Linked DNA regions of Homo sapiens: regions 1, 2, 3, 4 and 6 are each reported to be linked to region 5. The links are microRNA targets in miRTarBase. Many come from high-throughput screens and were not tested one by one. Region 5 holds a microRNA gene; each other region holds the end of a gene's coding sequence.

Region 1 (4,192 bases), not on the chromosome of region 5:
ACCTGATTTATGCTTACATTAGGCTTTGGATTTTAGACTTTAGAGTTGATACTTAAACAAGTTAAGACTTTTAGTGTGGTTGGGATGGAAGAGAATATATCTACATGTGACAAGAACACAGATTTTGGCAGGCCACGGACAGTATGTTACAGATTGAACGCATGTGCCCCCCACTTCAAAATTCCCACTTTGAAGCCCTAACCCCTAGTGTGGCTGTATTTGGAGTAAGACAGTAATTAAGATTAAATTAAGTAATAAGGGTGGGGCCCTGATCTGACAAGACTAGTGTCCTTAGAAGAAGAGACACCAGATAGCACTCATGCTCTTCTCCCACCCACAACCCACTTTGTGTGTACACATTGAACAAAGGCCATGTGAGGACAAAGCAAGAAGGCAGCTGTCTACAAGCCAGGAAGAGAGCCCTCACCAGAAACTGACCCTGTTGGACCTTGATCTGAGACTTCTAGCTTATAGAACTGTGAGAAAAATTTCTGTAGGTTATGGTACTTTGTTATGGCAGCCTGAAAAGACTAATACACTGACAAAAATTAGGAAGTATTGAGGTAATGTGTTGTTAAGCTAATTCCTCACTTTTAATAGTAGAGTAGAATAAAATAACGTCTAAAATATACTGGCTAGTGTTATGATGGTAACAACTAGAAAAACTAAAATTAATTATTAGAAGAAATTGGAGGGGGGTGTCTATGATAAAATTTTACTTTTTAACCCTTAGTTTTTCTAAAGCTATGTATATTAGTTTCATCAACCATTTCAAAAGTTTAACTTAATTTTCAAAGAAAACTTAAAATATCATGCCTTCATTCCTTAAATTTCATTGTTTTATTTTTATGATTTTTGCTATATTAATCCTTGCCAATTTTAAACCAACATTTTTAACCTAAATCAATTTATTTTACATTATTTTCAACTTAAGCTGCTTATACTTACATTTTCCAATACATTAAAATATATAATTATTACAAATGTTCACCCATGTAATACCTAAAATTATCTCACGTTCCAGGAGTGGTAGACGGCTTACACTTTGAAAAACATGACTAGATGCAAAATTTGAGTATTCGTCTTGATGGCTTAAAAACATATTAAACATAGGCTGGATACGGTGGCTCATGCCTGTAATCCCAGCACTTTGGGAGCCTGAGACGGGTGGATCACGGGGTCAAGAGACTGAGACCATCCTGGCCAACATGGTGAGACCCTGTCTCTACTAAAAATATAAAAATTAGCTGGGCGTGGTGGTGCGCACCTGTAGTCCTAGCTACTCAGGAGGCTGGGGCAGGAGAATCACTTGAACCGGAGGCAGAGGTTGCAGTGAGCTGAGATCATGCCACTGTACTCCAGCCTGGCAACAGAGTGAGACTCCATCTAAAAAAAAAGAAAAAAAAAAGAAAAATCACATTAAACATATATGAGAAAATGAATTCCTGTCTTTTAAAAAATAATTGTCTCCACAAGTTACACGTACACTGATAGGATTTTAAGGACACCTGAGTATTTGGATTTCCCTTTTTAGAATGATTACATTAAATATAACCTGAAAATATTCCACATAGCCAAAAGTTAAAAATTTAAAACTTTTAGTGCTGTTAAAACTAAATGCTGTTTTAAAAAAATCCAGAAACTGAACTTCGTTACATAAAATGGGCTTAGCTAAATAAAACAATATAAATGCCTTTTTTAAAAAAGCATGGGCCAGGTGCAGTGGCTCATGGCTGTAATCCCAGCGCTTTGGGAGGCCAAGGTGGGCAGATCACTTGAGGTTAGGAGTTCAAGACTGGCCTGGCTAACATGGTGAAACCTCTTCTCTACTAAAAATACAAAAATTAGCCAGGCATGGTGGTGGGCACCTGTAATCCCAGCTACTCGGGAGGCTGTGGCAGGAGAATCACATGAACCCAGGAGGTAGAGGTTGCAGTGAGCCAAGATCGCACCACTGCACCCAGCCTGGGTGACACAGCAAGACTCTATGTCAAAAAAAAAAAAAAATCACGGTTAAGTTGTCCAATGCATCAATTTATTCAACTAATGTTTAACCAGTACCTACAGGCAATCTACTCTGCTAATTACTGGAAATGCAAAGACAGATACAATGTCTCTAAAATTTGGAATGTGTCTGTGTAAGAATTTAAAGCATAAAGAAATGCCCCTCAATATAATGATATAACTTGTTGAATTAAAATAGTTCAGCTGTCAGTTATTGAAAACTAGTAAAAAGACTTAACTTTCACCACAATCTTTAGTAAAACTTAGAATGAGACTTACTTCTACTTATAGTCTTGGTTTAAAAAGCATAGCACACTACATCAAGTAGGCCCTAGGCATTCATATTTGTTTGCAGAATAAATATGCTATGGTCCATTTCTCAGCAGTCTAACTCTGTAAGGCAGTTCTTATATTTTAAGTGTCTAAAACACGTGTCTTCTTGATACAGGAGGAAATACTGAATTATTCATAACACAGATGAAAGTATTTTTCATCTACTTATATCCACCCTTCTTAAAAAGCATGCCTTCAACCCCCATTTGCATAGCTCCTCTGCTAACTTTTAGCCATTCCCTCTTATGAATGTACTGCCCTCTTTGTCTGAAGGCATCTGTCTCCATCAACATTTCATTTCTTACAGGAGCAGGGGCAGTGAGCTCTCCAGTTCATTCAGCCTTAAGTAGAGGAAGGGGCCCCTCACAGCTCCTAAGTTAGCCTTCTGGTACTCTTAGCAGAGTCTGGTACTCTTAGCAGAGTCTGCTACCCCAGGGCTGCAGAGTCTACCTGGGTTAGGTGCTAGTTGTTTACCAGGGTTCAGCATCAGTCTGAACTGAGCTTCTATACAGCAAGTGGCCACTAAGTGCCTTAGTGGTTTCTGGTTACACCTGGGGAACAGGGTCCTTAATATCCTAAAAGAATATTTTTATACTGATAGTTATTTTATCCACGTAAAATAAATCACTCATTTAATTAAATAGTTTTATAAAAGAAAAATTATTTATAAAAGAAAAACTATTATAAATAAATAATGAAATTCATAATGAAATTGAATATTTATTTGAATTTCTCCTGGTAATAGCACTCAACAAATAAGAAAAACCGAGCTGTGAGATTTTGTTTTAAATGTAGCCATATTTCAAAAGGTAAAAAGTTGGCTTCTATATTTAATGGCAAGTGGGACATCTTCTATTTTAAAATTAACATTCAAAAAGTAGTAAAATATACACTATCATGAACACGATGTGTTTTATAGAATGGATTCATGTCCGAATACTAATCTGAATGTGGAAGAAATGTATTATCTGTTAAAAACCACACTGGAAAAATGTTCTTTTTTATAAAAAGTAGCTTGAAGTAAAAAGGAACTTGCTAATAAAGCCAGTAAACTTTCACACGTGGGATTTTTAAAAAATCTCCACCCATCCCACCTCTGAAAAAAAAAGAAGGAGAAGAATAAAAGAAAGAAAAAGAAAAAACCCATATGGTCAATCTGAGTAGAGCCATTCATTACATGACTGCTCATTCTGTACAATGTGGAAGCCTGGTTATTTAGGAAATATTTCGTTTCCTAAAGTGCATCTTTTGAAGATTTGCCTAGTAAAACTGCAATATCATATACAAAACACTTAACACAAGACATGCAATAACAAAGCTAAATCATTCCAGTGTAAAGTTGTTAAAACTACTTTTAAAACTTTTGTTTCACCAAGAAATAAAGATGTAAAATACAGTAGCATTCTTGTTCTCCAACAGTATGCATTGTATGCTTTTGTTATTTGGCAAATCTTTTAGAGTCGAACAAAAATAATAGTCTAAACAACATTTCTTCTGTCATTATAATACGAATCCCGGGCAGAACAGTAAGATGTAGAGGAAGAGTTAGATTTTTGGAAGCTTTGGTGCATTAACCACAGGATTTGCCTCGTGCAAGTATCTCCTCCCTGCACTCTTGTAATCATAGGTACAGCCATGAGTTTCTGCATAACGATGAGATGCACAGAAGTTGTTTCCACATCTAAAGCACAAAAAAAGTTTACGTGAATAGTTGTATTTCTATGAAAGGCTCATCTGTCTGGGAGACAGGAGCTTGACTTCAGGTAGTCCAACAGGGGCCCTTTGGTTCTTTTTAGCAATTTCACTGCTGACATTTCCCTTCCATTCGTAAACAAGCATAAATACCCCCAAAAAG
Region 2 (4,223 bases), not on the chromosome of region 5:
ATTAGAGTTTATGATTGTGTTGAAATATCATATCCACTAAATCATCAGGCTTTGGATACCTCAAATTTTAGTTCTTAATTAATCTGAAATTCTCTATTATCTGAAATAGTTTCCAAGATAAGAAAGAACAGAGATATAGACCAATGGAACAGAACAGAGCCCTCAGAAATAATGCCGCATATCTACAACTATCTGATCTTTGACAAACCTGGCAAAAACAAGAAATGAGGAAAGGATTCCCTATTTAATAAATGGTGCTGGGAAAACTGCCTAGCCATATGTAGAAAGCTGAAACTGGATCCCATCCTTACACCTTATACAAAAACTAATTCAAGATGGATTAAAGACTTAAACATTAGATCTAAAACCATAAAAACCCTAGAAGAAAACCTGGGCAATACCATTCAGGACATAGGCATGGGCAAGGACTTCATGTCTAAAACACCAAAAGCAATGGCAACAAAAGCCAAAATTGACAAATGGGATCTAATTAAACTAAAGAGCTTCTGCACAGCAAAATAAACCACCATCAGAGTGAACAGGCAACCTACAGAATGGGAGAAAATTTTTGCAATCTACTCATCTGACAAAGGGCTAATATCCAGAATCTACAATGAACCCCAACAAATTTATAAGAAAAAAACAAACAACCCCATTGAAAAGTGGGCAAAGGATATGAACAGACACTTCTCAAAAGAAGACATTTATGCAGCCAAAAGATACATGAAAAAATGCTCATCATCACTGGCCATCAGAGAAATGCAAATCAAAACCACAATGAGATACCATCTCACACCAGTTAGAATGGCAATCATTAAAAAGTCAGGAAGCAACAGGTGCTGGAGAGGATGTGGAGAAATAGGAACACTTTTACACTGTTGGTGGGACTGTAAACTAGTTCAACCATTGTGGAAGTCAGTGTGGCGATTCCTCAGGGATCTAGAACTAGAAATATCATTTGACCCAGCCATCCCATTACTGGGTATATACCCAAAGGATTATAAAACATGCTGCTATAAAGACACATGCACACGTATGTTTATTGCGGCACTATTCACAATAGCAAAGACTTGGAACCAACCCAAATGTCCAACAATGATAGACTGGATTAAGAAAATGTGGCACATATACACCATGGAATACTATGCAGCCATAAAAAATGATGAGTTCATGTCCTTTGTAGGGACATGGATGAAGCTGGAAGCCATCATTCTCAGCAAACTATTGCAAGGACAAAAAACCAAACACCGCGTGTTCTCACTCCTAGGTGGGAATTGAACAATGAGAACACATGGACACAGGAAGGGGAACATCACACACTGGGGCCTGTTGTGGGGTGGGGAGAGTGGGGAGGGATAGTATTAGGAGATATACCTAATACTAAATGATGAGTTAATGGGTGCAGCACACCAACATGGCACATGTATACATGTGTAACAAACCTGCACATTGTGCACATGTACCCTAAAAATTAAAGTATAATAAAAAAAGAAAGAACAAGGAGAAAAAGTTTCTTTTTCAAAGAATTTTTGACTGTCATAAAATGTAAAATAGGTATATGTATTAAGGATATTTTAGAAAACTACATTAAAACTTACTTTTAAAAATAGAGCACATTATCTTAAGCAGATTACAGCTATTTTCTTCATATCTGAATTTAAAAACAAGTTTTTGAATCTATAACTCAAGGTGTTATCATTTACAAATATTTTGAATCTCAATATAAACTTTAAAACACTTTAGAAAACTATAATTTTTTATAAGCGATAACTACACTTAGAAAATATAATAACTTTTTAATATGCAAGTTACATTAAAATATACTTATATAATCAGCATTTGGTTCTGGCTTATCTCCAGCCGAGTATAGTGTGTACTCCCCACAATCTGTAGGTTTCACCATTTTCACTGTAGCTTTGTTTCTGAGTCATGGACCAAAGCTGATTGTGTTACAGGATAAGCTGTTTGAAGTGTAAGCCACATTAAGCCATGCTAAGCCACAATAAAACTATTACTGTTAGACATAATAAGATTATTAATATCAGGTTTTATATCAGCTCCACTTACTGAATTTTAGCACATAGAAAGGTAAGGAGAAAATGGATTTTAAATATTTTTTGATGCTGTTTGAAATTATTTAATCCTACAAATGAATATTTTAAAACCATATCTTCCTATTTGTTTTTGTTTCTAAGTATTTGACTCAATGGAACCATGAAAAGGAGGAGCACGTTTATCTTGAAAGGGACAAGTTAACATTTGATTTATTGACATTTTGCCTTTCAGTGAGAAAAAATATGTTAGTCTATAGTGAGTAATACTCTTAAGAGTTACATGATGTTATAACTTTAATTTAGTCACAGAATACGAATAATTTATAGAAAGTGAACAAAATATTTTATTCATCGTATCACTCAAAATATGTTATTTTATAACAAAGAAAAATGATTGTTACCTTCTGGATAAAAGAGAAAATGGAGTAAAATATTTGAAGCATTGAACATACAAAAACATTATTATAAATATCAATATTTATGGGCTACTGTGAAGGCAGCTGTAAAAAAACAAGTTCCAATAAAAAGTTCGAAACAGGCCGGGCGCGGTGGCTCACGCCTGTAATCCCAGCACTTTGGGAGGCCGAGGCGGGTGGATCATGAGGTCAGGAGATCGAGACCATCCTGGCTAACAAGGTGAAACCCCGTCTCTACTAAAAATACAAAAAATTAGCCGGGCGCGGTGGCGGGCGCCTGTGGTCCCAGCTACTCGGGAGGCTGAGGCAGGAGAATGGCGTGAACCCAGGAAGCGGAGCTTGCAGTGAGCCGAGACTGCGCCACTGCAGTCCGCAGTCCGGCCTGGGCGACAGAGCGAGACTCCGTCTCAAAAAAAAAAAAAAAAAAAAAGTTCGAAACAGACAAACATTTTAAAAATCTTAACAATTTAAATCAGTGAAAATTCGAGTGTTTTTTCCCTTCTAAATTTTTACTTCATAGGGTAGTGAATGCAACATAAACAGGTATTCATGAGTATAATACATTTTACACACTCCAAATAGTCACAGAGACTCTTGCATTATTTTCCCGTAGACATTCCTATTGTCTGTCTACTGCTATCAAGTGTAGGGTTAGAAGGCATTTTAACAAATCGATGACTGATTTAAAAAAAACAACAACCGAAGACATCTGTCATTAAGACAGGTCTCTAATAGTGGATGCTTGTTATTAAGAATCCAAAAGATTTTCTTAATGTTCTGTCCAGTAATTTTTGTTGTCATGGTCTGTGTTCCACATTGCCCTATGGCAATGTTACTCTTGCATTCCAATGCATTTTCTTAATTCGGCTGCAGTTTTTTCCAATTGTTGAATGTTCCATTGCCACTGTCGTCTATTTGACTGAAGCTTGTTCACCTGACAATGCAAACGCTTAAGAATTGCATCATACCTCTTATGTTGTACCTATCAAAAGAAGAGCACACATCAACAGGGCTTGTGAAGTATAAATAGTAAACAGCCATAAATAATATTTTGACTACTCTAAAGAGGGAAGCACTTAATTAGAAACTATCCACTATAAATAATTATGATAAAAATAAACAGTAATTGTAAAACTGTTTATTCAACACTTATTACATGTTAGATACTGTGCTGAGAGCTTTCTGCATATAATTAAATTCTTATAACACCTTATGATATGGGTATTATTATCCTCATTTTTGTGTGAAGAAACCAAAGATAAAAGAGTTCAAGTAATTTGACCAAAGTTTCATAGCTAGCAAGTGATGGAGTTTGGGAGGTTAGCAGAAGTGAAATATCCATAATGGAATACCTTCTTGTTAAGAGAGTTACCGGTGTTAAACTAAATTTGCCCTGGGGGACTCTACTTTGAGTCCCTATGTAAGGAACTACAATCTAACAGTATTTAAACTAACTAAAAGCCTAACTAGGAGTATATTTTTGTAACAATAGCTGAGACTCAGTCGACCACAGCAGCCAGCTTTGGTCAATCACAGGTGGTCCGCTGACTATACCATATTCAAATAAAACAGACATTGAGCCATTGAGAGCAATCAAGCCCTTTCTGCTCCTCATTTCCATTTTCTGTCCATAAATGTTGCCTGCCCACTTTGTGAAGTGGAGCTCTCTGAACCTCTGCTGGTTCTGAGGGCTGCTGCTTCTCTAATCATTCTTCTATTAAGCTCTGTTAAATTTAATTTTATTAAATTTAAA
Region 3 (4,000 bases), not on the chromosome of region 5:
CCTGTATTTCAGTGTCTTAAGATACAGTGATATTCTGACTCTGTTTCTACCTGAGGTATATTTGGATACATACTCCTTAGATCTTCAAGCTGATTACTAGGACCAAACCAAAATTTTTGTTTCATACTTAGTGTTTTGCCTTTTGATTTTATTCATTTAAATATTTTCAGCATTATTCTCACTCTCAGTACATTTCCCCCGACTTGAGCTAGTCAGTGTCTTCAGTCATTTGATTTTTGATTTTTTAAAAAAGTTATTTTCCATTTTCTTGATGTGATAGTTTCTTACACTTTGTGATATTCAATTTGATGACTTTTTATGTCTTATTTCTCAGATTATACACTAAGCCTAACTTCTGGTTCCTAGGTAAGTCAGTAATGTTGTATGCAGCAGAAATGATACCTAAACTAAAAACAAGGACACAAAAAACAGGAGGTGCTGACCAAAGTCTTCAACAAGGAGAGGGAAGTAAAAAAGGGAAAGGAAAGAAAAAGAAGTAACCTAGTATCAGCATCAAGTATGTGGTACTACTGTAAGAGACATGAATGGAGACTTCTAATTTGTATCGGAGGGAAACAGAAGCTTTTTGTTTGCATCATTTAACTGAACTGTGAACCCTTGTGCCTCTCATCTTTATCATCGGAGTTGACAGTGAAACAAATTTACATCAGAAGTTTGCATCTCGCGTATATGCCGTATAAAAGAATTTTTTTGTCTTTCAATGCAGTTTTTTGGAAGAAAATATTTTTAAATGGACAATGGACTGTACAATAAGTTACTTGAAATAAGTTGTTTCAGATAAATTTCAATTAGATTTAAAATAAACATTTTGTCCACCTTTTAAGTTAATGAAATAAAATTTGAAACTGACTTTTGCAGCTTTTGCTTATATACTAATGCTAGGAGAGGAGGGATAATTAAGAATAAAATATGTAGTGAAAGTTTCCATAGTGTGAGGCTAAAACTAGAAGAAACTGTGGTAGGTCCTTTTGTGGGTGGGGGACAGGGGAGTCTGTAAAAAGCCAGTCTGTAGATGATATTTTAATATATTATTGTAATCGAATCGTTCAGTTGTTTTTTGACATGGAAAGTCCTGGATTTTAAGCTTTAAATTTGCTTATTTTGTAGGTTTAAGAACATGATTTTCATGGGAGTTGTAAAATTAACTGTGCTTTAGCACCTTGAGGTACACTTTCCTTCAACAAATGAAATTGGATTGGTGCTCCAGAATTTCAGAGCGGTTTCTGAAAGTAGTGATTTTGAGCTATCCCAATTCCTGTTCTTCCTGAGGCCTGGTTTAGCTCTTCCTTGAATTCTGCAAGCTATCTCATATTTTCAGTAAATTCCATTTTTTTTAAGTTTGTTTGTTTGTTTGTTTTTGAGATGGAGTTTCACTCTTGTTGCCTAGGCTGGAGTGCAATGGCACGATATCGGCGTACCACAACCTCTGCATCCCAGGTTCAAGAGATTCTCCTGCCTCAGCCTCCCTAGGAGCTGGGATTACAGGCATGTGCCACCACACCCGGCTAATTTTGTATTTTTAGTAGAGACAGGGTTTTTCCATGTTGGTCAGGCTGGTCTCGAACTCCCGACCTCAGGTGATCTGCCCACCTCAGCCTCCCAAAGTGCTGGGATTACAGGCATGAGCCACCGTGCCCGGCCTTCTTTACATTTTTATTGCTCACAGTCAAACATTCCTATTGATTGTAAAATAAGCAAACCTAGAGTTGTGGAGATTTATATGTATTTATTTATTTGAATTGAGACAGGGTCTTAAACTCCCAGGCTCAAGTGATCCTCCTGCCTCAACCTCCCAAAGTGCTGGGATTACAGGCATGAGCTAGCTGGCCTGTTGACTTTTTTTTTTTAACTCTAACAATTTCTGTTTTATAGTGAACATAATAGTATAAGACTTAGTTTATATATTTGACTTACAAATAAATCCTGGGGAGAGGGGAGTATGTGTAAAACATAATTCAGAGCAGCCTTCTTTGAGAAAGTGGGTGTGTTTGGCTGTGTAACAAAACAATAAGGGGATGTGTTTGCTGTGTAACAAAACAATGAAGGATTTAAGCAGGATATTTTTGCCTCATATGTTAAATCCAAGTGAGGTTGCTGTGGTGGTTGGTTTAGCTCTCAGTGATGCCTTTTTTGTATTTTTCCGCTCTGCTGTCCATGACATATTTCTAACACCTTTATGATTATTGTTCCTGCTTGTAAAAGGGCTGATATTTACATGAGTGCAAGGCAGGAAGAAAAGGTAGCTGTGCCAGCCACTTCTGGCAAGCAGTTCTCCCACCTTAGCCTCCCAAGTAGCTGAGACCATAGGCATGAGATTTCTCAAAATTCCTCCCAGCAGGCTTTCACTTAGTTTCATTGTTGAGAACTGTGACAGGTCCATCTCTAGCTGCAAAGGAGGCTGAGAAAGTGAACACAGCAGTCCTCCTTATCCTTGGGGAATACATTCCAAGAGTGGATCCCTGAAACAGCAGATAGTACTGAACCCTATATATACTATGTTTTTGCCTATGTATATATACTTGATATGGTTTGGCTGCTACCCAACCCAAAATCTCATCTTGAATTATAATCCCCAAATCCCTATGTGTTAAGGGTGGGACCAGGTGGAGATAATTGGATCATGGGGGCAATTTCCCCTGTGCTGTTCTTGAGATAATGAGTGACTCTCAGGAGATCTGTTGGTTTTATAAGTGCCTGGCGTTTCCCCTGCTTGCAGTCACTCCATCTTGCTGCCCTGTGAAGGTGCCTGCTTCTCCTTGCCTTCTGCCATGATTGTAAGTTTCCTGAGGCCTTCCCAGCAATGCGGAACTGTGAGTCAGTTAAACCTGTTTCCTTTATAATTAATCAGTTTTGGATATTTCTTCATAGCAGTGTGAGAATGGATTAATACATACCTATGATAAAGTTTATAAATTGGACACAGTAACAGATTAACAATAAAATAGAACAATTATAATAATATACTATAATAAAATGTATGTGGAAATTGTCAGTCTCTCTCAAAATATTGTGCTATACTCACCTGTTTTGGGACCAAGGTAACTGAAACCACAGAAGTGAAACCACAGATGAGGGATGACTGCATAGCTTTTTCAGTCCTGACAGCCAAGGCAGCTAAGGAAGAAAGTAGTTGAGAATGCATACTGGGTCAGGTACAGTGGCTCACACCTATAATCGCGGCACATTGGGAGGCTGAGGCAGGAGGATCACTGAAGTCCAGGAAGTCGGGACCAACCTGGGCAACATAGTGAGACTGTCTCTACAAAAAAAAGAATTAGCTGGGCATGGTGGCACATGCCTATAGTCTTAGCTACTTGGGAGGCTGAGGTGGGAGGACTGCTTGAGCCCTGGAGGTGAGGCTGCAGTGAGCCGTGATCATGCTATTCCACTCACCTCAGCAGAGCTGGACCCTGTCTCAAAAAAAAAAACGTACTGTGGTAGCCAACTGAAAAGATTTGTCACAGAAAGATGGTTGAAATCTGGAAATGGTTTACTTTTGGGGCAATAAGGATTGTCAGTGCCATATTTTGGATGTCCCCTCCAAAATGCATGTTGAAATTTAATTGCCATTGTGATGTTATTGAGAGGTGGAACCTTTGGGAGGTGATTGGGCCATGGGGGCTGTGCCCTCAGGAATGGATTAATGTTACTATCTGAGGAGTGGGTTTGTTATAAAATGGAGTTCAGCCAAATTTTTCTTTTGCTCTCCTCAGCGCACCCTCTTTGTCCTCTCACCTTCCACCATGGGATCACACAGCATCAAAGACCCTTGCCATATACAGGTGCCATGCTTTTGGATTTCCCAGCTCCTAATCATGAGCCAAATACACATTGCCCAGGCTGGTGTGCAGCGGTGCGATCTCAGCTCACTGCAATATCTGCCGCCTGGTTTCAAGTGATTCTCCTGCCTCAGCCTCCCGAGTAGCTGGGATTACAAGTGCCTGCCACTGTACCCAGCTAATTTATGTAGTTTTTAGTA
Region 4 (4,202 bases), not on the chromosome of region 5:
ACCATTGCACTCCAGCCTGGGCGACAGAGCTAGACTTCGTCTCAAAAAAAAATAATAATAAAATAAAATATAATAATAATAATAAAAACAAAGAAACATTCTGTTCATAACCAGGGAGGACCCTGAGGCAGTGGTGAGGAATGCGGGCTTTATCCCAAAGGTGATGGGGAACCTCTTGCGGGTCCAGAGCAGGGAGGAGCAGGTGCTGTGGTCCTCAGTTCTGTAATCACCTCCTCTTGCCTTCCTGCCAGTGAGATTGCCACACTCCAGGAGCAGCTGATGACCTCAGAAGCCACTGTCCACAGCCTGCAGGCCACCGTGCACCAGAGGGACGAGCTCATTAGGCAGTTGCAGCCCCGGGCTGAGCTGCTGCAGGACATCTGCCGCCGCCGGCCACCCCTGGCTGGGCTGCTGGATGCCCTGGCTGAGGCTGAGCGCCTGGGGCCCCTGCCGGCCAGTGACCCCGGCCACCCACCCCCCGGTGGGCCTGGTCCACCCCTTGACAACAGCACTGGGGAAGAGGCGGACAGGGACCACCTCCAGCCTGCAGTGTTTGGGACCACAGTGTGAGCCCGGAATGCAGATTACAGAATGGAGACAGAAAGCCACTGCTGTCAGTGTCCTTGGGAGTCACCAGCACCCTGCAGGGGGACCCTACGGCAGAGCCAAAGTCCTGTCTAAGCATCAGAACAGGCTGAACAGTCAAAAAGTTTTCAAATAGGCCCACAGGCCAGGTGCAGACGTTTAACCCAGACAGAAGTGTTCTTGTTTGTTTTTAAGCTTTGAATCAGTCACCCTTGCTAAAAACCTGGCAATGCAAACACAAAGATCTGGATTTCTGGCAAGACTTGGCCAAGCTTGCCTGGAGTTCAGGGCACCCTCTTTAGCCAGGGTGTGAGTTTCTGTTTTTTGTTTTTTTTTTTTTAAGACAGAGTCCCACTCTGTCGCCCTGGCTGGGGTGCAGTGGTGCGATTTTGGCTAACTGCAACCTCCGCCTCCCAGGTTCAAGCGATTCTCCTGTCTCATCCTTCAGAGTAGCTGGGATTACAGGCGCCCACCACCACACCCGGATATTTTATATTTTTGGTAGAGACCGGGGAGGGGAGGGGGTTTCACCATGTTGACCAGGCTGGTCTCAAACTCCTGACCTTAGGTGATCCACCCGCCTCGGCCTTCGAAAGTGCTGCAGTTATAGGTGTAAGCCACCGCGCCCGGCCCTAGCCTAGCTTTTGTAGCATGCAACTGTCTCCTTTTTATACGCCCTAAAGAATATATTTTTGAACTCCTTGTTTCTGCGCTGTCCTTCTTAGCCCAGGACATTCAGGGTGCTTTGCTTGTTGTCAAACCAGGGAAAGGAGAAAACTCCTGTGCCTTTCTGGGCCAGCCTGTCACCCTGGCCTGGTCGGCAGCCATTCCCCTACCTCCTCACTCAGGAACTGTCACACCAGGAACCGGCGAGGGGCACAGCCTGTTTCAGACCAGAAAGGTCGGAGGCCACCCACGGCCTTCAGGATGGCGCCCGCCTGCCTGCCTGGCAACAGTGACCCCTCAGTGCAGTAACAATGGGCCCATTTTCTCCTCTGGATGAACAAGGAGGGGGGTTGTTTGTACAAAGGAAAGGCAGGCTGGGGCCTGTCTGTGCTCAAGAATAAACCGGATGATTTCCTGGCCTGGGGGCAAGAGGGAGGCCCTCTGTGTTATTTGTGCCTCCTGGTAGGGTCCTGCTGGGCCAGGTAGAATCTAGGGAGTGTAGGCCAAGCACTCTCTACAGCGATTGCATCTAATCTTCGAGTTTCCCTGTAGACACAGGCTTTGTCCTCATTTTACAGCTGTGGAAAGTGAGGCCCAGGCCGGGCGCGGTGTCTCACGCCTGTAATCCCAGCACTTTGGGATGCGGGTGGATCACCTGAGGTCAGGAGTTCGAGACCACCCTGGCCAACATGGTGAAACCCCGTCTCTACTAAAAATACTAAAATTAGCCGGGCTTGGTGGCGGGTGCCTGTAATCCCAGCTACTGAACCCGGGAGGCGGAGGTTGCAGTGAGTGGAGATTGCACCACTGCACTCCAGCCTGGGAGACAGAGTGAGACTCAGTCTCAAAGAAAACAACAACAACAACAACAACAACAACAACAACAACAAACAGAGGCCCAGAGGTGTGAAGGGAACACACTCCGGGTCTGGAGGGCCAGGGCCACTTCCAATTCTGGGGGAAGTTATTGCTGAAATTCTGTTTTCTTTCTTTCTTTCTTTTTTTTTTAAAGAGACAAAGTCTCACTGTTGCCCAGGCTGGAGTGCAATGGTGTGATCACAACTCACTGCAGCCTCAAAATCCTGGTCTTGGCTGGGCCAGTGGCTCACACCTATAATCTCAGCACTTTGGGAGGCCAAGGCAGGTGGATCACCTGAGGCCAGGAGTTCAAGACCAGCCTGACCAACATGGTGAAACTCCGTCTCTACTAAAAACACAAAAATTAACCGGGTGTGGTGGCGCGTGCCTGTAATCCCAGATACTCGGGAGGTTGAGGCAGGAGAATCACTTGAACCCGGGAGATGGAGGCTGTAGTGAGCCGAGATTGTACCACTGCACTCCAGCTTGGGCGACAGAGGGAGACTCCGTCTCAAAAAAAAATCCTGGGATCAAGCTATCATGCTACCTCAGCCTGCCAAGTAGCTGGGACCATGGGCATATGCCACCATGCCTGGCTGCGTTTTTGCATTTTTTCTAGAGATAAGGTCTCATTACATTGCCCAGGCTGGTCTTGAACTCCTGGCCTCAAGTGATCCTCCCGCATTGGCCTCCCAAGAAATTCTTACTAAACATTTACAAATGAGATGCCAAAACAGCACTTCAGTAATAGTGGTTATATTTTATAGTTCTCTACACAGAAAAAAAAATGCTGCTTGTAACACTCATAGACATGAAAGTATTTCTCTGCCTATTTAAATAATTCTGGATTGCAGTGAGCCACCAGGATTTTGGCAGCCAGATGTCACCATGATTTCTCATAAAACTGATGATGTTACATCAGTGGTGGCCTGAATCAAGATGCTGGGATGCCTGTAACCTACAGATTGGTTTCAGACTCCAAAGGCAACTTTTTTTTTTTTTTTTTTTTGAGACGGAGTCTGGCTCTGCCACCCTGCCACCCAGGCTGAAGTACAGTGGTGTGATCTAGGCTCACTGCAACCTCTGCCTCCAGGGTTCAAGTGATTCTCCTGCCTTGGCCTCCTGAGTAGCTGGGATTACAGGCATGCACCACCATGCCCAGCTATTTATTTTTTTTAGTAGAGATGGGGTTTCAAAATGTTGGCCAGGCTGGTCTTGAACTCCTGACCTCAAGTGATCCGCCCACCTCAGCCTCCCAAAGTGCTGGGATTACAGCTGTGAGCCACCGCGCCCAGCCCTGGCCTCTTTTTTTAAGTTATTTATTTATTTTTGAGACAGAGTCTCACTCTGTCGCCCAGGCTGTGGTGCAGTGGCATGGTCTTGGTTCACTGCAACCTCTGCCTCCTGGGTTCAAGTGATTCTCCTGCCTCAGCCTCTGGAGTAGGTGGGATTACAGGCACCCGCCACCATACCTGGCTAATTTTCTTTTTTTTTTTTTGAGACAAAGTCTTGCTCTTGTCCCCCAGTCTGGAGTGCAATGGCACGATCTCGGCTCACTGCAACCTCCGCTTCCCAGGTTCATGCAATTCTCCTGCCTCAGCCTCCCGAGTAGCTGGGATTACAGGCACATACCACCACGCCCAGCTAGTTTTTCGTATTTTAAGTAGAGACAGGGTTTCACCATGTTGGCCAGGCTGGTCTCAAACTCCTGACCTCAGGTGATCTGTCTGCCTCGGCCTCCCAAAGTGCTGTGATTACAGGCATGAGCCACCGCACCCGGCTGACTAATTTTTGTATTTATAGTAGAGACAGGGTTTCACCATGTTGGCCAGGCTGGTCTCGAACTGCTGACCTCATGATCTGCCCGCCTCGGCCTCCCAAAGTGCTGGGATTACAGGCGTGAGCCACCGTGCCCGGCCAGTTTATTTACTTATTTTTAAGAGGCGGGCGTCTTGCTCTGTAACCCAGGCTGGAGTGCAGTGGTGCGATCATAGCTCACTGCAGCCTCCAACTCCCGGGCTCAAGTGATCCTCCTGCCTCAGCCTTCCAAGTAGGTGGGATTACAGGAACACACCACCATGCCTGGCTAATTT
Region 5 (4,223 bases):
GCCCTCTAATATGCACATTTAAAAGTGCTTTCTTTTCCATTTATCTGCTGAGTTATTGAGGTTCCAATCAGGGTTGTCTACTTGAACTGCTTCTCTTCCTAGTGGGAATGGAGTTTCCATTACTTCTTCACCTTCCCTATCTCCTTTTTTTCTCTTTGGTCTGCCATAGGAGATGTTGTTCATCTTCATATTTTTCTGCTGCCTGCAGAACTGCTTGCTTTTCAGCTTCAGTGAGGCCTGACTTAGGAGCAACATAACATCCCTCCATGTGAGGTCAAACACCTGAGTTAAATTTTGGAAAATTTCTATATATTTATTGGGGTCATCAGAAAATCTGCTTAAGTCTCCCTTTAATTGCTTAAGGTCCTGTAATGAGAAGGGAACGTGAACCCTCATGGCACGATTTTCATCAGGCACTTCCTGCAGAGATAAGAATGAAGTGGGGAAAGTGGGTAATACTGGAGATGGTGGACCTGGAGGACCTGATGGTATGATTGGAGGGGCTTCTGGATGAGGGGAACTGAGTTGAGACATTCAATAGCTGTCTCAGATTGCTCCTCTGGAATCTGCTTTAGCTCTGGGGGACTATTCCTTGTGGGCTTGCCTGTCATGCTGCTAAAAGAACTGGGTCAATTGTACAAAGCTTGTAAAGGTCTGGGTCGTCTCGCAGGGCAAAGAAAGCCTGTACATTGGGTATCTCAGACCATTTGTCCTTCCATCTGCAGAAAATATCTAATTGTTGGACAGTATTAAAATGAAGGCTCCCCCCAGCAGGCCAGGTTTGTCTGTCTTAAAGATGGTAAGAAGGCCATGCCCTTATGCCATAGAATATGAGGTGCTCTTTCTACAAAGTCTCAGGGTTGAAGCAGTCCCAGTGCTTTAGAATATACTCCAGGGGAGTACATGCTGAACATGATCTGTTACCCATCTAGAAAGAGAAGTGAGAAAAAGGTGTCTCTTTTGTCTCCTTCCTCTCTCTGTATAACCCAGAGTGGAGAAGAAGACAGTGGGAGCGTCCCCCCAACTGTTTTCCTTCCTTGGTTCCTGGGTCCCAGCACCCTGTTAAATGTGCTGCCCATGGTTGTATGTGTGACCCTCCAAGCCATGGCACCAAAGAAACCAAGCAACTGGGGCTAGTCATGCTCATTCAAGTAGCTCTAGTCCTCTGCCTGTGATTTCCCTTTGACTTCCTAGACTTGTGTGACCTGTGTGCCTCCCTTAAAAAAAATTGACCTTGGGAAAGATTATATAAAAGGCAAGTGTCCTTTAATGGAGGGAATGTGCTAGATTGCCTGCTACTATGGCCCGTGTTAAAGCCTTAACCCTTAGAAAAATGGTTCTGGTTAACTTTCAGACTTAAAATCCCCTTACTAATTAAGGACTGTCTTATTGGAGACAGAATAGTTTCCTTAAAGGGATGTGGGGGCCTAATCGTGACTTTCCTGTTGATGGGACAGGATCAGGACTCAAATTTGGCTGCAGAGGACAATTTACTCCTAATTGTTGAAGGCAGAATTTTCCTGTTCACAGAAGCAGCATAAAGCCTGGTTTCCAGTAGGAAGGGGCAAAAAGGAAAAATTAGGAAGCTGCGGTGGACTGTAGCGGACAAGCAATGCGTCTTATGAAGAGGGTGTCTATTTCCACTAGGTGGCGCTGTTGGCTTAGGAATACTATGTGCCACCAGCAGCATAGTAGGGACTCATCTCACAACCGGGGTTTCAGAGACCTCTGTTCCTAGAAGATTGCAACAGCATTTTCCTGAGCTATAGCCCCGGTTATTACAGCATTTCCTGATCTTGCCTAACAGGATTACTTCCCTAGGCTGTAAAAATTCCCACACATTCGACACACAAAGAGAATAAGAGGCATAGCGACCGTGGATAGAAACAGAAAAAAAGTTTTGCGACAGGATAACTGGGGATCTTTTACCAACACCTGGGCAGGCTGCTGGAGGCTGAGTCCGGTCCAGAAGCTTTTGAATAACACTAGGAAATGCCCTGGCCAGAAATTCTCAGTTGCTTCAGAACTTTTCCCCGCCTTATGCAATGGCTAATTTTCCCCATGAACAGAAAAGCTGGTTTGAAGCACGGCCAACATTCCCAATGACCCAGGGTATTGGAGGGAGGGGGGTCTTCATGTTCTCCCCAGCAAGGCTGACATGCGAGTCTTTAAGAATGGCAGCCACACTAAGCATATCTAGATGGTTGACAGATGCTGTTATTGATTTGATTTGATTTTAAAATGGAAGCCAAGAGCCTCGGAATGAAAGGACAGGTTTTGAGTTTGCTCTTCTGCTCACCAACCCCAATGGATATTGTACCTTGGTTTCCCAGCCAACGCACCAAAAATGATATGGGTCTGTTGTCTGGAGAAACACCCAAGGTCCTTGTTCTCGCACGGAGAAAATTAGCGACACGGATACACGTGGAGTGGTTTAAGGAGTGGAATGTTTAATAGGCAAGAAAGAAGAAAACAGCTCCCTCATACAGAGGGAGGAGGGCTCCAAATGGAAAACCCCACATGTAGCAGAAAGCAGTCGGTTATATTGGGAGGCTGGACGACGTGGTGTTTGGTTTGCATAGGAGCCAGGGGATTGGTTTGACCAGGTGTGTCATTCACATAGCCTGCAAAAAAGCCAGCTCTCCCACCCTAGCCTTTAAATATGCACATATGGCTACCTGGCTGGTCACCATGATGTTCTGCATACGTGGCAACAAAGAAAAAGTCACGGGAACCACCATATTGGTTGGACCTGGCTTCTAGCCACCAGCATTTGCATATCAATGCTTGCAGGTCTGGTTTTTCAGGCCACTTTCTGTTAGAAAAGAAATGTTTTGGGGCTTGCTTTTTTATTAAAAGAAAAAGCCTTACCAAGGACTCTTTTCCCCTCTCTTGCTGCCTAAAATAATTTCTTAATAACTCCTGTAATACTAGTGATTCTTCGATCAGGAATACAACTTTTCTATAATTTGTGATTTCAAACGTGTCAAGATGGCAGTGACATCATTTTTTCCCATGTGCTTTCTGCTTCTTCGCTTAGAAAATCAGTGGCAGATTTCTCCCAGTAAAGAAGACATATTATTTTAATGTTGCCAAATATTTTATAAATTATTCCCTGACTTATGCTCAAACAGTGACTATAGTTGAAACATCATCCTGCAATGAAGCTCAAAGTATACCAGTCTTACCTATGCGTTCAGAGCTTCAAACAGTTTTTAAAATCTCCGTCTTTAAACGTGAGAAGATAAGCAAGAATTAACAGTTGAAGAAGGCTTCTTTTGTGAAAGAAAAGTACTGGGAAAACAAAACAAAACAAAACAAAAACTGGAGGAGAGAGATAATATAAAAAAGAAAATGTTTAAAGCTTATCGTTGTCTTAAAAGAAGTTTCGTTAATTAAACAAAAAGAGCTTTCTGATTTTAAAATTACTGTAGGCCAGGCATAGCAGTTCGCACCTGTAATCCCAGCAATTTGGGAGGCCTAGGCAGGTGAATTACTTAAGCTCAGGAGTTCAAGACCAACCTGGGCAATATGGCAAAACCCCATCTCTACAAAAAATACAAAAATTAGCCAAGTATGGTGGCACATGTCTGTGGTCTCAGCCACTCAGGAGGCTGAGGTGGGAGGATGGCTTGAGCCTGGCAGACAGAGGTTGCAGTGAGCCTAGATCACATCACTGCACTCCAGCCCAGGGACAGAGCGAAACCCTGTCTCAATAAATAAATAAACAAACAAACAAATAAAATTACTATGGAGCTATAGAAATCAAAATAGTGTGGTACTGACATAAAGATAGGCCTATAAATAAGGTAATGGAACTGAGAGTCCAGAAGTAAAGCCTTCTAATTGTGTCAACTTTTTCTTCAAAAAATTTGCCAGGCCAATTCAATGAGAAAGGACAGTCTTTTCCACAACTAATTTTAGGACTATTGAATATCCAACATGCAGAAAGGATAAATTTAGGCCTTTATCTCAAACTATGCACACAAATTGACTCAATATGGATCAAAGATCTAAATGTAAGAGCTAAAACTGTAAAACTTTTAGAAGAAAATGCAGGAGAAAATCTTTTTGACCTTGGCTAGTCAATAATTTCTTAAATATAACATTGAGACCACAATCCATTAAAATAAATAAACTATAGTCAAATTGGTCATCAAAATTAGAATCTTGGGTACTTCTAAAGAAATAGCTGACAGAATGAAAAGATAATCCACAGACTG
Region 6 (4,223 bases), not on the chromosome of region 5:
AGTGAAACTCCATCTCAAAAAACAAAACAAAACCAAAAAAAGCCAATGCAATTCAGGATATAATAACAAAAAAGTATGATATCCACAGGAGTAATGTATGAATACTTAATTTGTAGGCAATAGTTATCACATTCAAAGTCAATATTTGCAAGATGAAGCATAACTAGAAGAGGGAGACTAGAACAATAAAAAGCCATATCAAATGGGAAACTTAGTGTTTTGAGTTACTGGAACCAAAACTTCATCAAAGTCTGTTATACATACAAATGCCTTGTGTCTGTAGCTTTTGAGAAAATTGAAGAAAAAAGCCACAATACTATATTTGAATTAGCTTAGAGCATGTTTAGTAGTTAAGAGAATTTGAAATGCTTGCTTGGAGATGTTAAAGAAATATACCTTATGTCTCAACACATATAGGCAGTCATGGCTACTTACCTCTTACTGGTCTATTCATGCAGAAATTATTCAAAACTGGCAAGAGCTGCTTTTGTCTTCTAAGAACATAGCATAATGCTTATCAGTGAAAATAAAAAGTCAAACATTTGGAGAAAGGGAAAATTCAAAGTTCATGTCCATTTTCCTGGGGTACAAAGGATAGACAGAATTTTTATGATAGTATTATTTCTTTAGGAAAAAACAGGATACTAATTACATCATTTTTCCTTTATAGAAAATCCACCTATAAATCCAGGGATTGTATGAACACACCAAACAACCTTTGGTTCTGTTGCTCTTCTGAATCCCAATGTGATTAAAATGTTCCTGAGGTTTCCCTAACCACCAACTCAGGTTCTAAGTATTTAGGATGTAGTAAAGATAAAATTTTGTTAAAGAGACAGCTAAAGCTAATTTTTACATAGAAAAAAATGTATATTTATATCCCTAAAAGGCAATACAGAATTTATAACCAAACCATGTGTGAGAACTGTTAAATTACATTCCAAATACCAGCAGTGGAACAAACAGAAACACAGAGATGTTTTAAAAAACATGCAGCACGTTACAAAGAGGCCGTGTAATAATTCACAACTTTTGTTAGCAGCCGTTAAGTTTGATTAGTATTAAGCAGCAATGGTTTAAGCAATTTTAAATCATGATATGATAGTTACATATATGCATTTTACTGTTCCAATTATAGTTTAGTAATAGGTCAGGGGTTTGAGCAACATTTTAAGCATTATAATTTTCTCCTAAATTATTTACTATGGGAAATTGGCTTCCACTTAAGGTTTTCATAGAAACTGATGGTTATTTTATGAGGGAGATGTCTGGACGTATGTGTGTATGTGCATGTGTGTGTGTGTATATACACACACATATATAAATTAGAATTTGCAGATATTATGTGTATATATATACACACATATATAATATATATATTATATATATATATAATTTTTTAGTCATGTTTTTAGTCATTTGCTTTTTTTTTTAGTCATTTACCGGTTTCTCATAAGACATCCAGTCACTTCTTTTCCCTTGCCCTTTCCTAACACTGTTCCTAACATTTGGGTACCACCCCTTAGCTCCTGCGACCCATGTGGTTTTGGAGAAAGCTGATCACACTCACGGTGACAGGCCATGGTTGGAAGTAACATGTTCCACTTTTCACGAAAAGTAATAGATCTGAATATCATTCATGGTTAACAATAGATAGTGTGACATTTGGGTATGACCTGCTGGTAGAAATAGGGCATGATTCCCTGGAAGTAAGTCACTTACACCAACCCAAGTTCTAATTCTTTAAGATGTAGTAAAGACAAAATTGTTCTTGCTATATTAAAATGGAAGAAAGGATTTGCAGAGTTCAAGGATGATATGCTCTAGCTCTATATGCACTCCGCTATCAATCATTCCTTTTACTTTCTGCCTTGAAAAAATCATTTTAATAAAATCAAAAATTTTCATTCTAAAATATAGTTCAATGATTTCACTACCCTTTATGAACAAAAACAGCACGAATCCTCTAAAGAAGAAAATTGAGCCAAATTGTTATGTTTTGCCTAGATATTCACACAATATTTCACACCATAATAGAAAAAATAATTTTTCCATGAGAAGTCAAGAGACCTGTATTATATAATAGTTCAAACTTTTAAAAATTAACATGTACAATACACTGCAGTATAACATAATTTTTGTTGGAGGGGTAGATGAAGATAGTGGCTCAGTTTCCTTTGTGTAAAGCAAGTGAACTTGGTCGATTTAACTTAAAATTTCTATTAGCACTTAATATCTGCAAATTTTAATTTAGGGCTCAACATGTGGCCTTGCCATTTAAAAGAGCTATCAGCCTTAATAGCTAACACAAATTCTTTTATTTCAGTGTATTATATAGGAGAAACAAAAAATGCTATAAAATTCATGTTTCTAATGAACAAAAATGTTAAGGTTTATGACTATGCATTGTATAGAATTACCTAATATTTTTATATCTGAAGTAGACCTTTTGTAAGTACAGTACCTACATGTTTTTTTCATACATTCATACTTGCCTTCGCAGTTTCACATCTGTATAAATCTTATGATCGTTCTCTAATAAGTACACAAGATTAACACTACTTATGAAATATGGACAAATATATTACTACTCATTATAACCCATCCAGATTATTAGTTTAACTCATTCAATTACTACAAAGATCCTTACAGAGCTGAATTTAATATACAATAGAACATCACTGCCCTCTGATGGTATCACTAATATATAATTTTAAATTCAGCAAACAAAAAATCCTTTATCATAAAGTAAAACAGGGTATGTTAATTTTATAAGCTACATAAATAAAAATAAATTGGAAAAAATTTTACATCTGCCTAAGAATACTCATTACTAAGTTATAAAAATTTACAGTGCTCCTTCACATCAGCCCTTCAAATGATTTTTTCAAGATTCTCCCTGATGATCAGTTTAAAGGCACTAAGTCCATAAGTTTAATCAAACATCTTCATAGTGAAATAAAAACAGATGTAACGCGATGCAGCACAAATATAAGTAGTTAGATCATTTTATAAAGGATGAAAAGACAACTGCGAATTTTAATCTTAGAGGTATATGCAGAATGTTTACATGCAGTGTATGTATATTCACTATTTAGTTCCATTTTTTAACTACTAAGAAAAATAGCAAATCACCCACTAACTGCAGAAGAGCAAATGTAGGAAAATCAGTATTTAATGAAAAGTCTAGCCATTCTCTAAGCTTGAAAATCAACGTTTTTTTAGCATTGCACTTAAGGGCAATAATATTACAAAGTCTGAATCTTCATTTACTCAAAGAGAAGAAATTAAATTGATGAAGCCCACTTGATTGCAGATAATAAACAGTTATTGGCAGTAGATTCTTCTACTCATGTTATGCTTTATGAAACTGTCCACTAGAAAAGATAAAAAAGAGACAGAAAAGTAAATTTTACTTGAAGTTATATAACAGTACTTCAGTGAACAAACAGGTAAAAAGAGGAATATGGGACATAGAAATACAAAATGATTTTTCTGAATAGCAGCTATTCATAAAATTTTACATTATAGTCCAAAGCCTGAAATAAGATGATAGTTTAAAAGCATAAAGAAGACAAAATATCTGGTCAGATTGGTGGGTAGTTGCAGGATAGCTCTGTCTCACTGTCTTGCCTGTAGTTTTCAAGAGTAACTGTAGAATGTGCTGGGAATGTAACATCCTGGGATAGCAAATGAATGGCCAAGGACAGCTCAAGTTCTGTTCCAGTCCCTCCCTAAAGACAGGACGTCCTTCAATGCTTTAGCCCAAGGAGTCATGTAGTACCTCCCCTTCTAACCCCCAGGTCATAAAACCCAGGGCACTCATCTGAGGTTCAAGTGGGGCACACACAGATGTCATCAACCCCAGGCAGTTTTCCTTGGGAGACAAGCTTATAATGAATCCTAGGCTTCTGTTGTCCCTTGTTGCCAATCTGTAAGTAATAAACTCACTCCACGTTAAATGTTTTTGGTTTTGTTTTGGGATTTTCTTGAGACAGGGTCTCACTCTATCGCCCAGGCTGGGGTGAGGTGGGAATGGCTCACTGCAGCCTTAACCTCGCAGGCTCAAGTCATTCTCCCACCTCAGCCTCCCGAAAAGCTAGGACCACAGGCACATGCCACCACACCTAATTTATTTTTTATTTTTGTAGAGACAGGGTCTCGCTATGTTGCCCAGGCTGGTCTCTTAACTCCTGACCTCAAGTGATCATCCCATCTTCTCA

What was found. The annotated mature microRNA hsa-miR-7977 reads UUCCCAGCCAACGCACCA and lies in region 5 at 2,327-2,344, shown strand. An mRNA with a match to its seed (bases 2 to 7 or 8) in the 3' UTR can be bound and repressed. Matches are read on the target gene's strand: a 7mer-m8 pairs with bases 2 to 8, a 7mer-A1 pairs with bases 2 to 7 and ends in A, and an 8mer does both.
Region 1: the mRNA of ZFAND4 is a reported target of hsa-miR-7977. The part of its 3' UTR that is shown has no 7-base or 8-base seed match.
Region 2: miRTarBase lists CCDC122 as a target of hsa-miR-7977. Seed matches in the 3' UTR shown: 7mer-m8 at 2,754-2,760 and 7mer-m8 at 2,620-2,626.
Region 3: the mRNA of SRP19 is a reported target of hsa-miR-7977. Seed matches in the 3' UTR shown: 7mer-m8 at 1,494-1,500, 7mer-m8 at 1,628-1,634 and 7mer-m8 at 1,821-1,827.
Region 4: the mRNA of VMAC is a reported target of hsa-miR-7977. Seed matches in the 3' UTR shown: 7mer-m8 at 1,038-1,044.
Region 6: miRTarBase lists SVIP as a target of hsa-miR-7977. The part of its 3' UTR that is shown has no 7-base or 8-base seed match.

Annotation. Positions count from the first base shown.
Region 1 is chr10:45,612,554-45,616,745 of GRCh38, forward strand. It overlaps ZFAND4 (zinc finger AN1-type containing 4), which reads right to left. Exons shown (of 10, transcript NM_174890.4): 10 at 2,947-4,018. The coding sequence ends at 3,883. Among named protein-coding and RNA genes, the nearest start is that of ZFAND4, 58 kb to the right of the region's middle.
Region 2 is chr13:43,833,978-43,838,200 of GRCh38, forward strand. It overlaps CCDC122 (coiled-coil domain containing 122), which reads right to left. Exons shown (of 7, transcript NM_144974.5): 7 at 2,375-3,452. The coding sequence ends at 3,303. Among named protein-coding and RNA genes, the nearest start is that of CCDC122, 44 kb to the right of the region's middle.
Region 3 is chr5:112,867,038-112,871,037 of GRCh38, forward strand. SRP19 (signal recognition particle 19) reads left to right here. Exons shown (of 5, transcript NM_003135.3): 5 at 367-2,751. The coding sequence ends at 500. Among named protein-coding and RNA genes, the nearest start is that of SRP19, 7.8 kb to the left of the region's middle.
Region 4 is chr19:5,908,573-5,912,774 of GRCh38, forward strand. It overlaps VMAC (vimentin type intermediate filament associated coiled-coil protein), which reads left to right. Exons shown (of 2, transcript NM_001017921.4): 2 at 252-2,281. The coding sequence ends at 570. Among named protein-coding and RNA genes, the nearest start is that of CAPS, 3.6 kb to the right of the region's middle.
Region 5 is chr3:176,512,777-176,516,999 of GRCh38, forward strand. MIR7977 (microRNA 7977) reads left to right here and starts at 2,327; the gene lies at 2,327-2,375.
Region 6 is chr11:22,819,757-22,823,979 of GRCh38, forward strand. SVIP (small VCP interacting protein) reads right to left here. Exons shown (of 4, transcript NM_148893.3): 4 at 1-3,377. The coding sequence ends at 3,363. Among named protein-coding and RNA genes, the nearest start is that of LINC02718, 7.5 kb to the right of the region's middle.